Linked DNA regions of Homo sapiens. The protein of the gene in region 2 purifies or fractionates together with the protein of the main gene of each other region. This does not show direct contact. Each region holds a gene or a part of one and is shown on either strand. Other genes may lie near its edges. The genes, in order: ARK2N, CSNK2A1 and GRAMD1B.

Region 1 (3,654 bases), on a different chromosome or scaffold from region 2:
AAAAACAAGGTACCATCACCAATATTTCAGATTCTTCTAACTTTATTCATTCATTATGGATCTAGAAACTAGTAATATTCCTTCCACATTGTTAGATAATCCAAACAATTCTGGTAGTGCAATTTTTGCCATAAAAATTGCAATCCAAACCTGCTGGTATTTAACATGGTTACAAAACCCAGATGATATGCTAAAACTGGTCACTTTAAATTGGGGTCTGCTATTTTTTTTTTTTTTTTTGAAATGGAGTTTTGCTCTTGTTGCTCAGGCTGGAGTGCAAAGATGTGATCTCAGCTCACTGCAACCTCCACCTCCCGGGTTCAAGCGATTCTCCCACCTCAGCCTCCTGAGTAGGTGGGATTACAGGCATGCACCACCACGCCAGGCTAATTTTGTATTTTAGTAGAGACGGGGTTTGGCCATGTTGGTAAGGCTGGTCTCGAACTCCTGACCTCAGGTAATCTACCCGCCTCGGCCTCCCAAAGTGCTGGGATTACAGGTGTGAGCCTCCGCGCCTAGCCTAGGGTCTGCTCTTATCTGTAATGCTTGGTCAATATACTAGTGCAAGATAAGAGGCATGAGAAAGTGATGGGGGTGCTAAATACAGACTGCCTCGTGAATGTTAACAACTCCTAGACTAATAGTGTGAGACATTTGCCAAATTTCCTGTCAGAGCCTTAGATAAATTGTGCCACACAGAAAACAAATCAGCTAGGACCCACACCAAGGCAATGAGATGCCGTGCTCTACAAGAGACACCAAAGGCATTCTGGGATGCCTCTGCCTCTTCCTTCTTCTATTTCAGAGCCAGGACCATTAGTCCTTTTCTGTCACTGTAACCCTCTTCAGCATCCCACACATTCCTTTGGGAGCTCCAGTATAGAACCTGACATTCTCTGGCCTTTGGGCCTTTTCTGCTCTGCCCCTCCCCACCCCGCCTCACCCCCCATGGAGGACTTCACAGGATTCCAATGGCAGAACAGTGCCTAAAGCATACAGAAAAGTGAGCCAAAGATGCTATGAGGTTCTTCAAATACTGTCAGTGGTAGTAATCTTTTCCAGTTCTAAGACAAGAACAAGCCCTGTAGAGAAAAATGTAAATACCGCAATTACCATATATTAAACTGAAAATAAAGCAGAGCACTTATATTTAGCTATTGTGACAGCTGGCTGTCTCTGTGTAGGTCTCTGCCTGTGTAGGTCTTTGGAAAGATAACTTCTTTCACTATATGAGAAAATTCTAAATTTTGTCCTCCCACTACAGACCTTTTCAACAAGAAAGGGTAAGAAAAAGTTACCAAGAAAAGGTAGTTATCAAAATAGGGTAAGAAAAAGAAGCACAGAAAAAGTAGTAACTAAATTATCATGGAAAACAGTTTCTTTCTGTCTTTAAAGGAAATAATCCAGCTACTTTTTAAACTGTAAATCCACTGGGTAAGAACTAGGCCTGAGCTTTGCAACACACTGAAGAGAAAGTAATACTACATACTGTATGACAGTCGCATGCTAGGCATAAAAAAAATAAAAAAATAAGTCACTACTCATTTAGCTTTAAAAACAGCAAATTACTACTTTTAGTTCTTTTTTTCTTTCTTTTTTTTTTTTTTTATTGAGACAGAGTCTCACTCTGTCACCCAGGCTGGAGAGAGGTGGTGCAATCTCGGCTCACTGCAACCTCCACCTGCCGGGATCAAGCAATTCTCCTGCCTCAGCCTCCCAAGTAGCTGCGACTACAGGAGCCCACGCCACCGTGCCCAGCTAATTTTTGTATTTTTTTTAGTATAGATGGGGTTTCACCATATTGGACAGGCTGGTCTCGAACTCCTGACCTCGTGATCTGCCCACCTCGGACTCCCAAAATGCCAGGATTATAGGCGTGAGCCACAGCACCCAGCCTACTTTTAGTTCCTTAAACAGCACGTTAAACAACCTTAAAAAGTGAAGGAAGAGGGCTGGACATGGTAGCTCACGCCTGAAATTCCAGCACTTTGAGATGCAGAAGTGGGCAGATTACTTGAGATCAGGAGGGCAAGACCAGCCTGGCCATCATGGTGAAACCCCATCTCTACTAAAAATATAAAAAAATTAACGGGGCGTGGTGACGGGTACCTGTAATCCCAGCTACTGGATAGGCTGAGGCAGGAGAATCACTTGAACGAGGAGGCAGATGCTGCAATGAGCGGAGACTGCCACCGCATCCAGCCTGAGCGACAGAGCTGGAATCCATCTCCAACAACAACAACAAAAAAGAGTGAAGGAAGAGCTCAAAAATCTAAAATCTGGCTGGGTGTGGTGGCTCATGCCTGTAATCTTAGCACTTCGGGAGGCCAAGACAGGCGGATCACTGGAGGTCAGGAATTCGAGACCAGTCTGGCCAACATGGTAAACCCTGTCTCTACTAAAAATACAAAAATTAGCCAGGCGCAGTGGCACACACCTGTAATCCCAGCTACTTGTGAGGCTGAGGCACGAAAATTACTTGAACCCGGGAGGCAGAGGTTGCAGTGAGCCCAGAATGTGCCATTGTACTCCAGCCTGGGTGACTGGAGACTCCCTCTTAAAAAAAAAAAAAAAAAAAAATCTAAACTCTTACCATCAATTTGATGCAGATAAACATGAAGAACATGACCATACTTCATCTCCTTCACTATACTGATTCTGAAACATGGCCATTCTGGTCTAATTATTAAAAACCCTACACTAGGAACAGGAAACCCAGGATTCATTTCTCTGTACTGCCACCATGTTAGGGACAAATCAAGATTACCATCCCTATTGTAAGGATGGGGAAAATGCTCAGAACCTACCTTCTTGACAAGAAGGCTGATGGAAAAGATAAGGTATTTAAAGTTTTAACTTCCCAGGGAAAAAAATCCTAAATAAGTTCAGTTTACCACAGCTATAAGCCTTCCTCACCAAGACTTCTGCTTCTTCTTGCCCCAACTACATTTGTTTGCAGTGAGCCCTTACTAGCAACAAAAATGAAGCCATTTTCAGATATATTAATACAGTTTCCTAAACATGCTGGATACAAGAGTTACCTGAGGCTATTATTAAAAAGAGATTCCCAGAAACCATTTCAGATTTATTGACAGAATCATCAGGAGAAACCTAGGAGTGTGAATATTTATAAACACACTGGGTAATTTCTACGCTCTGGCAAAATTTAAGAAGTACTTGTAGCAAGAGCAACTCGTTGCAGTGCAAGAGAGTAATTAGAAATCCAGTGACTGAGCCACTAATCACTTCCTTACTCAGTCTACTTCAGCATATTAACATAATGCTGGTTAGCATTTCTGAGGGCCTACTATGTGCTGTCCTCCGTAGTAAACACACTGTATTTCACTTAGTGGTAACAATAACCTTTTGGAGTAGATACTATAAAGGTTGTGCCCCAGTTTTGTAGATAGGGAAAACTGAGGCTTTATATAATTTACCTGAGGACATGCAGTTTCTAAGTGGCCACTGGTTCAAAATCACCCACTACAGTGTTCAATTCCAGCATCAACTTAAAAAAAGCAAACACATGGCAAGAATTGAAATGGAAAATTCAGGTCTTTTGTTGATCAGTAGCTTCTCTAATTTCGACTTACTTTTTAATCCCTGCATGTGGTTCAAGTCTTTTGCCTAGGTTAAAACTAAAACTAAATATAT
Region 2 (3,051 bases):
AAAACCTCTGTTTCCTCTTTGTTATTTTTGCCTGTTAATGGCTGGGCTGAGGGAGAAGGAGGAGACGGTAGGGTAGGTGACGGTTCCATCTCCCTTACTTTTTTAGGCTTTTCTGTGTAGAGTGGGACCAAAGCAGTCCTAACTAAAGCCCATAACGTTAAAGATGTTACTGAGACCCATTGCCCTTGCTCATGATGTTAAAATTTCTTCCCAGAGCTCTACGTCTAGTGTACCTTCTTCCGAGAGCCATGGGTTATGGGAAACAACAGTTTGCATTAGGTCCCATAATTGAGCCTGTCTGAGGCTCTGCTAACTTTCAGCATTTGTTTTACTACTTTTATATACTGTTGCTGTTGAGCTGACAACTGTTGTCCCATGATGACAACTGTCATCCCATGATGATCGTCCCTAGCTTGAGCAATTCCTTTGAACTTGGAAATGCTGAACAGGCACCAATGACTTACTGACTGCGCAGTCTCTTCACCTTCATTTTCGAGGGTTCCGTCGTGATCTGTTGCAGCATTCCTCACACAGGGAATCACCTGCCGAGTCTGTCCCACAGACTTTGGCCGAGTGACAGATGAAAGGAGTACTCAGACACAGATATTCAGTGAGAGAGCAGGCTAGGGGACTGCCAGCACTAGGGGCCGAAGAGAGTTAGCAGTCCCCTTAAGCTGGTGGCCCTCACATTTATTTAGCACAAATTTAATGACAAAGGCTTGGAGCAAACACAATTTGTGGGCAATAAACATTGTCAACATCCCAAGTAGACAGCAGTCCTGTGTGTGAATGATCAAAGGTTGGTTTCTGGACACAGGAATAAACAAATTTATCTAGGTAAGTTCCTATACAACTCCCCTGTTATCTGCCCTTTGCTCTCAGGCTTCAGATAAGAATTTGGCTGCCTTCAGCCATAATTTCTTTCTGAAGCTTTTGCAAAACCTCTCGGCCTTCCAAGAAGGTTTGTGTCTTTCCTATAATTTCTCCCACCACCCTGACCAATCTCCTACAAAGGCTGAAGCAGGAGGATTGCTTGAGCCCAGGAGTTTGAGGCTGCAGTGAGCTGCGATCACACCACTGCACTTCAGCCTGGGCAACAGAGCAAGACCTTGTCTCTAAAAAGTAAATAAAAAAAAGAGTTGGGCTAGGTTTGAGGTTTATTGTTGCTATGGTTACCCCCAATGCAGCAGCTTCCAGTTCCTCCAATGACACCTTGGACTGAGGGTGCAGGCTGGCCTGCCAGAGGGATTTTCTCCTTCCATGTGTGCTCCCTGCTCAGCTTTAGGTCCTCCCTTTGTGACCCTCAGAAAGGGTCTTCTTCCCATACTCTTGTCTCTCTCCTGTAACATTTTTACTTCTAACTCAAGGCTTGTCAGCTTACCATTGGCAGGTGGGGGAGGAGGGAATTCTCTGTTCTGATCAAGTCTCAGTCTCTGTCAGGCCCTTTGTGTCTCTGATTTTGGGGTTATGTCCTCCTTAGTGCTCCTGTTCCTCCCCCAGTTCTGGGCCCAGTGTGTATTCCTGCCCCTGCCCAGGGAAAGTTTTGTTTTGTTCCTGTTTCATTCCCCCAGATGCAAGGGAGCTTCATCCAAGGGGGTGACAGGATTTGGTGTCCTTCCCTCCACAGACTAAGGCTTTTGTCCGGTAGGGGATACAGGGAAGGGTCTGGGTGGAGCACTGTGATCCTTTCACAGTAGCTGCCATTGTCTTCTTCCAGATCTTGAGACATTTTATTAAAACTTTCTCCAATCTTCTGTGTGCTCCCAGTGGGGTTCATGGTGAAAAACGCTGAAAAGGGTAAAGACTACTGCAGTCTCCATGACCCAGTCCCTCACCAGTGTCCACTTGTGTTTACCAGGTAACCAGTGCCCATGTCATCTCTTCCATTTTGTGCCTGTCTCTCCTTAGATTTGAAGCCAGTTGATTGTCTTCTGATCTCAGCTCTCCAGAAGACCTTTTCCAGAAGACCTCTCCCTGTGTATCCACTTCTAAACCAGTCACAACTGCCCGAGTCTCACAGCAGCATGGTGGATATCCCGCTGTCCCTCAAACTGGGGCTCTGTCAACAAAGAGGAAGGGAGGAATGACTCCCTTGGGAGGAGACAACAACATTGCAAGTGATCTAGTCTTTGAAAGGCTTTTAAGCAAGGGACTGAGATAAAATTTATTTATTATTTTTAAGAGAGAGGTTCTCACTCTGTCAGCCAGGTCTCACTGAGAGCAATGTGATCATAGCTCACTGCAGCCTCCAACTCCTGGGCTCAACGTATCCTCCCACCCAGCCTCCCCAGTAGCTAGCACTATAGTCACACACCACCACACTAGTTAATGTTTTCATTTTTTGTAGAACAGAGGACTCGCTGTGTTACCCAGGCCTCAAGTGATCATCGGGCCTTGGCCTCCCAAAATGCTGGGGTTATAGATATGAGTCACTGTGCCTGGACTAGAATATTTATTTTTGAAAGATCTTTGGTTGCAGGTGTCAGATGAATCAGGAATTGAGACGAGATGGGAAGGCATCAAGACCAGTTATCTGCTATGATACTCCAAGCAAGAGAGGATGGTGGCTGGGATGAGGAATTTGGCAACGGGAATGGGAGGAAGTGGATGCATTCAAGATAAATATCCATTTATTAAAAGTAGTTGCTTTTTCACCAGAGTAATACATAAATATAGTTTTAAAAGTAAATACTGCTACTATCTTAACAATAATTTAAAAAATCTCAAAATAACATGCAACTGTTTGATTTTTCAGTTTTAGGCATTAGTTCCCCTTATAAATGATGAGAGTTTAGAGCTTAGACCGCTTGTCCTGTTACCAACACCACCACACATGCCAGCATTTCCCATCACTCCTCTTTCCATTGTCATCATACTGTAATCCTGGTTAGACCAGTATTCAGTGTTTCCATTATGACTACGTAAATTCTAATCACAGCTGAACCAGCAGTATGATATTTAGTTTTCCCTCCTTTCATAACTTTTCCCATTCCTGCTGAGTTAATACTTTTTTGGCTTGTCTTACTCTGCTCAGTTTTCATTTTGTAAACT
Region 3 (3,654 bases), on a different chromosome or scaffold from region 2:
AGTATAATAAAAAAAAATTGTGCCGTCTTATGTTCAATGGTAGTTAAGATGATGCTTTGCAGTTAGACCACTGAAAGAAAAGAGCAAGACTCCAGGCCTTCACCTCCCCACGCTTCCTCCCCACTACACGGAACAGCAGAAAGTAGTTGCCTCGAGCAACACTTTGAGAGTGTCTCTCCCAAGCTCCAGAATCTACGACAGCTCCTCATTGAATTGACTTCACTTTGCCTAGGAAGCGCTCTGCATATAGGATCTCAATACCTGTTTGATGACTGAGTGATTCATTGAAATTCAAACTCTTTGGCATAAATCACCTTCGGTCTGTCAGCCTCACCACCTTCATTTTTCCACATTCCTCAACAAGATCACATTTGGTCATCCATCTCTATCTTCAAGCCAACACATCCAAACTGCTTTCACCTATAGGCATTTGTTAACCCTTCAAAACTCAGCTCTCTATAGATCAGTGGTTGTCTAGGGCTGGGGAAATGGGATGGAGAGGGTGAAGGTGCTAGCCAAAAAGTATGAGTTTCAGTCAGGCACAGTGGTTCATGCCTGTAATCCCAGCACTTTGGGAGGCTGAGGTGGGCAGATCATGAGGTCAGGAGTTCAAGACCCACCTGGCCAACATGGTGAAACCCTGTCTCTACTAAAAATACAAAAATTATCTGGGCGTGGTGGCGAGCTTCTGTAATCCCAGCTACTCAGGAGGCTTAGGCAGGAGAATCACTTGAACCCAGGAGGCAGAGGCTGCAGTGAGCCGAGATTGAGCCACTGCACTCCAGCCTGGGTGAGAGAGGGAGACTCCGTCTCAAAAAAAAAAAAAAAAAAAAAAAGTATGAGTTTCTTTGTGGGGCAACAAACGTTTTTAAAAACTGACTGTGGTGATGGTTGTACATAGCTGTGAATATATTAAAAACCACTGAATTATGCTTTAAATAGGTGAATTGTATATTATATAAATTATATCTCAATAAAGCTGTTTTTAAAAACTCAGCTCTGTACTCATCTCCTTTTGGAAATTTTCCCACACTCATGAATAAAAGAATTTCACTTTAAACAGTAGAGAAAAAGGAATCATTTATTTACTCATTATTAACTCATCAACAAACATCTATAGATCTATAGATCACTGTAAGAGGTCAGGTACAGTGCTGTGACGATACAAAGATGAACATGATTGGTCTTGGAGTATTCCAGTGAACACTGGAAAGTTAGTAAGCCATGCTGTCTTTACCATTTGTTCCACTTCTTCCTTCCTAGGGTTTAAGGAGAAGAAAAGGGTCTCCTAATCCTCTTCATATTTTCAACTTTGTGCAGTGAAAATCCGCAAGCTTGAGCTTCAAGTCAGTGACAAGTAAAAAAACAAACAAACAAACAAATAATGAAACAAATAATGAAAAAACAAAAATTAAAAGAAATCCACAAGCTATGGCCCTCTCAGCCACTTAACTTCTACCACATCACGCTGAATTTCATAGCAAGCCTGAAAGGTGTTTTTCTCTCTTTTGGAGCAGGAGATTTGGGGTGGGGAATGTGGAGACGTCATGCTGGGCCTGGTATGCTAATCCTCCCTAATCCAGGCCAGAGCAGAGCCATTTTCCAACCATCATTTCCAAATCCTGAATTGTGTGAGGAGGCTCAGGTGCTGCTCCAGGACACGTGAGTATGTAACCTCATACTTTTAAGCAAACATCCATTCCATGTGAGAGACTCACAGAGTAATGAAATAAGCCTTCACCCTTGCACAGCAAGAGGAAGTTTGCAAAACATTTTCACATTCACTACTCTTCAGACTTCCCATTAACCCACAGAGATCCTCTTCCACAAATGAAGAAGGTGAAACTCATGGAGGTAAAGTGAAATGCTCAAGCTAATCTCCATAGCTAATCGATGATAGAACTTAAATATACAGCTGTCTTCTGATATTAAGTCCAATGTTCCCTGCACTCCATTGCCTCTAAATGCCAATTCTATTTTCTTTTGGAAATGGAGTCTTGCTCTGTCGCCCAGGCTGGAGTGCAGTGGTGTGATCTCAGCTCACTGAAACCTTTGCCCACAAAGTTCAAGCAATTCTCATGCCTCAGCCTCCTGAGTAGCTGGGATTACAGGCGCGCACTACCATGTCCAGCTAATTTTTGTATTTTTAGTAGCAACAGGGTTTTGCCATGTTGGCTAGGCTGGTCTCGAACTCCTGGCCTCAAATGATCTGCCTCCTCAGCCTCCCAAAGTGCTGGGATTACAGGCATGAGCTACCACACCCCGCCACCAATTCCTTCTCAGGCCACTTGGTGGTATCTACGAGCACCTATTCACTTGATTGCTGCTTTTCTTGGAAGGAAGCCTTTCATCTTCGAGGCCTAAAAATGATGGGGCTTTGTTTTACACACAATCCAAATAGATTCCAACAGAAGGCAGTATAACAGTAGCTAAGAGTAGATGTGAGTCACACGAATTTGAATTTGAATCCAGAGTCTGCCTTTTCAGATACATATGTTCTTGTTTTTTGTTGGTGGTGGTTTTTTTTTTTTTTTTTTTTTTTTGGAAACGGAGTCTCACTCTGTTGCCCAGGCTGGAGTGCAGTGGCGAGATCTCGGCTCACTGCAACCTCCACCTCCTAGGTTCAAGCAATTCTCCTGCCTCAGCCTCCCGAGTAGCTGGGACTACAGGTGTCCACCACCACACCTGGCTAATTTTTGTATTTTTAGTAGAGACGGTGTTTCTCCGTGTTGCCCAAGTTGGTGGCTAACTCCTGAGCTCAGGCAATCTGCCTGCCTCATCCTCCCAAAGTGCTAGGATTACAGGCGTGAGCCACTGCGCCCGGCTGATACATAGGTTCTTCTAATCCAAAAGTCACCACTTAAAATAACTGCCTGAACTACATCTAGATGAAAATCCTGCCAAATTTTAAGGATATGTCCCCAAATCCAACAAAATGAAGGTTCCACTACACACATAGACAACTCTCGAAACCAGGAATACCTTCCTAAATCTAACCAAATCTACTGTCATCCCCATCCTAGCCAGCAATGCAAGATTTTTTTCTTCATACACACAAAGACACACACACACACACACACACACACACACACACGCACGTAACATTTTAAGCGTTGGGGGTGGGGGTCTCACCATGGCTGAAATGCAGTGGTTATTCACAGGCACCATTATAGCCTACTAAAGCCTTGAACTCTTGGGCTCATGTGATCCTCACACCACAACCCAAGTAGCTGGGAATACAGGCCATGCCATTGCACCCGGCTCTTTTTACCATATTTTGTCCTCAGTATATATGGCAGAATCTCAAGATCAAAAGAAGGTCTCTTTTAGTTTCTTTTACATTGGAGGGAAAAGCCGACAAGCCATGACAAACTACTTTATTTATTTATTCATTTAAGATGAAGTTTCGCTCTTGTTGCCCAGGCTGGAGTGCAATGGCGCGATCTTGGCTCACTGCAACCTCCACCTCCCGGGTTCAAGCAATTCTCCCGCCTTGGCCTCCCGAGTAGCTGGGATTACAGGCACCCGCTACTACACCTGGCTAATTTTTTGTATTTTTAGTAGAGACAGGGTTTCACCATGTTGGCCAAGCTGGTCTCGAACTCCTGACCTCAGGTGACCCTCCCGCCTCACCTCAGGTGACCCTCCCGCCTC

What was found.
Region 1: the proteins of CSNK2A1 (region 2) and ARK2N purify together in Homo sapiens (affinity purification with mass spectrometry; 4 studies listed by BioGRID and IntAct, with this or other methods). This does not show direct contact.
Region 3: the proteins of CSNK2A1 (region 2) and GRAMD1B purify together in Homo sapiens (affinity purification with mass spectrometry; 4 studies listed by BioGRID and IntAct, with this or other methods). This does not show direct contact.

The regions. Positions count from the first base shown.
Region 1 is NC_000018.10:46,243,528-46,247,181, reverse strand, and holds part of ARK2N (protein ARK2N), read right to left. Parts: intron 1-3,654. UniProt on the Homo sapiens protein: AMPK substrate important for exercise capacity and skeletal muscle function.
Region 2 is NC_000020.11:471,892-474,942, forward strand, and holds the end of CSNK2A1 (casein kinase II subunit alpha), read right to left. Parts: 3' UTR 607-3,051; downstream 1-606. UniProt on the Homo sapiens protein: Catalytic subunit of a constitutively active serine/threonine-protein kinase complex that phosphorylates a large number of substrates containing acidic residues C-terminal to the phosphorylated serine or threonine.
Region 3 is NC_000011.10:123,433,120-123,436,773, reverse strand, and holds part of GRAMD1B (protein Aster-B), read right to left. Parts: intron 1,341-3,654; coding exon of another isoform or gene 1,307-1,340; exon of another isoform or gene 1,059-1,306; intron 1-1,058. UniProt on the Homo sapiens protein: Cholesterol transporter that mediates non-vesicular transport of cholesterol from the plasma membrane (PM) to the endoplasmic reticulum (ER).